Linked DNA regions of Homo sapiens: region 2 is linked to region 1. Evidence: fine-mapped expression QTL. Tissue or cell type: macrophages. Region 1 holds a variant in brackets; the other region holds the start of a gene. All regions are shown on one strand. Distances are from middle to middle.

What was found. PIP is the estimated chance that this variant, and not a neighbour inherited with it, causes the effect.
Region 2: NOTCH3 starts here. The variant in region 1 is the best candidate, but not a certain one, in a credible set for the expression of NOTCH3 in macrophages (Nedelec 2016, PIP 0.67).

What each region holds. Positions count from the first base shown.
Region 1 is chr19:15,659,855-15,662,537 of GRCh38, forward strand. CYP4F3 (cytochrome P450 family 4 subfamily F member 3) reads left to right here. Exons shown (of 13, transcript NM_000896.3): 13 at 1-2,683. Among named protein-coding and RNA genes, the nearest start is that of CYP4F12, 12 kb to the right of the region's middle. The variant G/A (reference allele first, on the strand shown) is at 1,502.
Region 2 is chr19:15,199,357-15,202,039 of GRCh38, forward strand. It overlaps NOTCH3 (notch receptor 3), which reads right to left and starts at 1,639. Exons shown (of 33, transcript NM_000435.3): 1 at 1,432-1,639. The coding sequence starts at 1,549. RefSeq lists a silencer at 709-935 and enhancers at 1,522-2,023, 2,024-2,523.

The sequences.
Region 1 (2,683 bases):
GGACTGAGGAGCGACTGCTAATCAGGATGGGGTTTCCTCCTGGGATGGTGAAAATGTTCCGGACCTAGATAGTGATGAAGGTAGCACGACACTGTGAGTGCACTAAATGCTATTGAATTGGACACTTTAGAATGGTTGAAATAGTGATTTTTATGTGAATTCTACCTAAACATGCTATTACAGCTCATATATACTTTTTCCATCTGGATTCTTCACAAAAGAATATGTTGTGAGCATCTTTCCATGATATTAAATCATCTTAGGAAACATTATTTTGTGTTCTTCAAAATGTGCATGTTAAGTATTCAAATCAGTCTTAAATTTTTAAAAATATGTAATTTTAGAAAATAATTTAAAAGGTTTTGTTTCAGTTTGTAAGATTTCTTTTCTGGCACTTTAATGGCTTGAGGTATCATTATCAGTTACAAATTGAGTTATTCTTCATCAAATGACTTTTGGAGTAGAGATTTTATTTTTATAGCAATAGATGCACAGATATTCCTGTAAGATACAGGTGTGGTTAGACACTTTTCTAGAACAGGCATGCCCTGCAAACTCCACAGACACTGACTGTTTTTGTCCTATTAAGAAGTAGACCACTGAGAAGGGAGAAGGTGACATTTTAGCTTTCCCAGGTAAAAGTGGTTTTCATCCTCACACCAATTTTATGGACTGGACGTTAACTCTCTTGCTCAAGGTCACTCTGAGTGGAAGAGTGGGGATAAATCTGGTTCGTTTGGCATCAGAGGCCATGACTTTTCCTACCACAGAAGTAATTTTCAAAGTAAGTCTCTGCCCTAGGCACATCAGATCACCTGGGGACCACTCCAGAGTGAGTAGACAAGACTTTGACAGGGGTGCCTAATTTTTTTTTTTTTTTGAGATGGAGTCTCGCTCTGTTGCCCAGGCTGGAGTGCAGTGGCATGATCTCAGTTCACTGCAACCTCCGCCTCCTGCGTTCAAGTGATTGTCCTGTCTCAGCCTCCCAAGTAGCTGGGATTACAGGCACCCACCACCACATCCAGCTAATTGTTGTATTTTTAATAGAGGCGGGGTTTCGCCATGTTGCACTGGCTGGTGTTGAACTCCTAACCTCAGGTGATCCACCCGCCTCGGCCTCCCAAAGTGCTGGGATTACAGGCCCGGTCCAGTTTGATAGTTTGTTATCATGTTATACGTACACTTAGAATAATGATCCAGCCATCTCATTCTAACAGCAATGAGAACTTAGGCTCCCCTCTCTACTAAAATACAAAAGTTAGCTGGTCATGGTGGTGCGGGCCTGTAATCCCAGCTACTCGGGAGGCTGATGCGGGAGAATCACTTGAAACCCACAGGCGGAGGTTGCAGTGAGCTGAGGTGGTGCCACTACGCTCCAGCCTGGGGGAGGGGGACATAGCGAGACTCGGTCTCAAAAACAAAACAAAACAAAACAAAACAAAACAAAAACAAAACAAAACAAAACAAAACACTGCCAAACTGTTTCCAAAGCATCTGCATC[G/A]TGTTTAATTTCCATAAGTAACGTATGAGAATTCTAGGTCCTCCAAATAATTAGCAGTCCTTCGTAGTGTCAGTTTTTGTTTCAGCCTTCCTTATGGGTATGCTGTGGCATATCCCTGAGATTTTAATTCGCATTTTCCAGTGACTAAGGGTGTTGAACCACTCGTGCCTTCCTGTGCCTATTTGACACTCCTATATTTTCTTTGGTGAAGTGTCTGTTCAATCATCTGCTCATTAAATTTTCCTTCGGTTGTTTGCCTTCTTATTGTTGGATTTTGAGAGTTCTATGTACAAGTCCTTTGTCAGTCGTGTGATTTGCAAGTCTTCTTCCTAGTCTCTGAAGTTTCTTTCTTTCATAGAGCAAACGTTTTAAATTTTTATGAAGTAAGACTTCTCAGTTTTATTTTTGGTGAATTATGTTTATACTGCCATATATAGGAACTCTTTGCTTAACTGGAGGTCATGGAGATTTTCTCCTACATTTTCTTTTAAAAGTTTTATAGTTTCAGAGTTTACATGTAATTCCATAATCTCCATTTAGTTAAATTTTGTATGGGGTGTGAACTGTGGTTTGACTGTTTTCTTGTATATGGATATCCAATTGTTTCACACAATTTTTTTGAAAAGAATATCCTTGGCAGGGCACGGTAGCTCACACCTGTAATCCCAGCACTTTAGGAGGTCAAGGTGGGCAGATCATGAGGTCAGGAGTTTGAGACCAGCCTGGCCAATATGGTGAAACCACGTCTCTATTAAAAATAGAAAAATTAGCCAGGCGTGGTGGTGTGTGCCTGTATTCACAGCTGCTTGGATGGCTGAGGCAGGAGAATCGCTTGAACCCAGGAGTCAGAGGTTTCAGTGAGCCGAGATTGTGCCACTGCACTCCAGCCTGGGTGAAAGAGCTAGATTCTCTCTCTCAAAAAAAAAAAAAAAAAAAAGGAAAGAAAGAAAGAAAAGAAAAGAAAATCCTTTTTGCTTTAACTTGCCTTGCAGGTTTGTAGAAAACTCAATTGTTGAAATTTGGGTGGATATATTTCTGGATTTTCTATTCTATTCCATGTTGGACCAATACCACACTGCCCTAGTCACTGTTGCATTATAGTATATCTTTAAAGGAGTAATGGGAATCCTTCAACTACATTTTTTCCCCAATAATTTTTGGCTATTCTGCTTCCTTTGTGTT
Region 2 (2,683 bases), 460 kb before region 1:
TGTAAATGGGTGTACAGCTGTGTGTTGGTGTGACCTGTGTGTGCACCGCTGTGTCTGTGTATGGGTTGGCTGTGTCTGTCCATCTGCATGTGTGAGCTGGGTGTAAGCATGTCCTTGAGTCTTCATCTATGTGCTGTCTGAGTGTGTGCAGGCAGCGTGTGTGCCACACCTGTGTGATCATATTTGTGTGTGTATGTATGTCAATGTGTGAGCTGTGTGCGTGCAGCTGGGTGTGTCTTTCCTGAGCCAGGTGTGCAAGTCTGCGAGTGTGCTGTGTGTGTGCAGGTTTGCATCTCTGTTACGTGACCTAGAGCTATGTGTGCCAGCGAGTGTGTCACAGGCCATGTGTGTGCGCCGCTGGTCCGGCGGAGGCGGCGGCTCCTGCCTGGTCCTGCCCCGTCCGGGCCCCGGGGCTGGGCTGGGGAGGCCGTTCACTCCCGAAACCCCCACCCCGCCCAGCGCCAAGCCCCACACTGGCGTCTGGGACCCCTGGCCAGGGGCCTTGGCCCGCGCCCCTCCCCCGCCCACCAGGCCTCCCGTAGCGGTGAGGGGGGTGCCCCCGCAGCCCCCTCCCCGGCCCAGCCGCGGGTCCCGCTTTGTCTGGCAAAGAAAGCGCGAGGCCGGCCGGAGGGAGGGGGTGTCTAGACGGCGCGGCCATTGTCCCGAGCGGGGGAGGGGAGGGAGGAGAGGAGGAGGGGCGGGGGCCCCTGGCCGGCTGGGGAGGGGCTCTGGCCGCGGGGAGGGGGCGCTGGAGCCGAAGGGGAGCACGTGGGCCCTCGCCCCTTCCCCTCCCCGCGCAGGGGCGGGGTCCCAGGGCCTCCGGGTCCCCGCGGCCAGAGGAGAGAGGCGGGCTGCGGGCGGGGGAGGGGGCGCGCGCGCCGCCGAGGCTCCGGCTCGGAATCCGGCTCCGGGTCTTGCTGCGCGCCGGCCTGGGAAGTTTTCTCCGAGTTCAGAGCTCCCAGAACTTCGCGCCCCCTCCCCACCCCCCGCCTGGCCCAGCCCGCCCGGGGTGTCGGGGGCGGGGTGGGGGGGCTTTTGTGCGAGAGGTCCCCGGCCTAGAAGTACCTGGGCCCCCAATCATAACCTACCCAGGACTCCAGGCGTGAGTTGGATGGGGACGAGTCCCGAACTCTGTACGCACCCCCCCACCTCGAGTCCCTGATCCCCGCACCTCGAGCTCCCAGTCTCGGACTCCTGGGTCCCTTCATCTTCAGCTCTAATCGCTCAAGGGTCCCTGTTCCTTGGGCCTCTGGGGTCCTCCCCATTCTGAATCTCTGGGTCCTCCAGGACTGGCATGAAGCCCGGGGCTCCTGCGCCCCTTCCCCGACCCTGGTTCCTGCCTCCCATGAACCCCCGCCAGCCCCGGCCTTGGGGGTTCTTGCACTCCCCCTCTGCCGCCCTCGTCCCATCCGCCAGGTCCCGGCCCCTCACCTGCAGCCCCCGGCCCCGCTAGCAGCAGCAGCAGGGGCAGCGCCCGCACGGGTGGCGGTGGCGGTGGCGGCGACATCGGGCGACGGCGGCGGCGGCGGCCACGGGCCCCCGGCCCCATGGCGGCCGGCCGCGACCCTCCCCTCCTCCCTCCTTCCCTGGGCTCCGGGCGCGTCCCGGGCCAGCCTCCGCGCCGCCAACTTCGCCGAAGTGAGGCGGCCGGGCCGCCCCGCCCCCAGCCCTCGAAGGCTCGCCCCGCCCCGGGGCCGGCCCAGCGCGCCCCCGCCCCCCGCCCGGCCTCCCGGGGTCCCTGCCCACCCTCCACCCGCACAGCCTGGGACGCGCGGACCCTCGGAAACCCAGGCCGAGCATGCAGTGAGACGCGGGCAGAACCCGGAGTGGCGGGCACACCCAACCTCGTGAACGCCCACGCACCCCATCCCCATCCCCCAGTACACACCCAGAGCCGGACACCTCTGGAGCCGGGACAAAAAACACAGCCTCCCAGAAACTCTGGAAACTGAGGCCAGTCACGTCCTGAGAGGCTCATGGACCCACAGCCACGGACGCACAAATGCAAGCCCATGCACCAAGCTTCCCCAGGACTCTGATCTAAAACATTCACAAACCTAAAAGTCGGACCGGGCGCGGTGGCTCCGGCCTGTAATCCCAGCACTTTGAGAGGCAGAGGTGGATGGATCACTTGAGGTCAAGAGTTGGAGACCAGCCTGGCCAACATGGTGAAACCCGGACTCTACTGAAAATACAAAAATTAGCTGAGCGTGGTGGCGCACGCCTGTAGTCCCAGCTATTCGAGAGGCTGAAGCAGGAAAATCGCTTCAACCCAGGAGGCTGAGGTTGCACTTAGCCGAAATCGTACCACTGCGCTCCAGCCTGGGCAACAGAGTAAGACCCTGTCTCAAACAAAACAAACAAACAAAAAACCGCTAAAACTCACTCAGCCAGGCCAGGAGCCTAGGACTACATTTGCAGCCTCAGACCTCAGACACGTACTAGGAGTCACATGCATGTGTGTGTGTTCACACATGCACACACAAACTCTTCTTGCTCTCAGCCCTCCCAGAAAGCAACCCACTTCCTCTGTGACTCTCAAAGGGTCACCCCAGCCCCCTAGTCCCACCCCCATACCCCACACAGCTTTGGGCCTCAGCCTATCTGGCTCAATTTGATTAATTCTCTTTTCTTTTTTTTTTTTTTTTTGAGACAGCGTGTCGCTCTGTCACCCAGGCTGGAG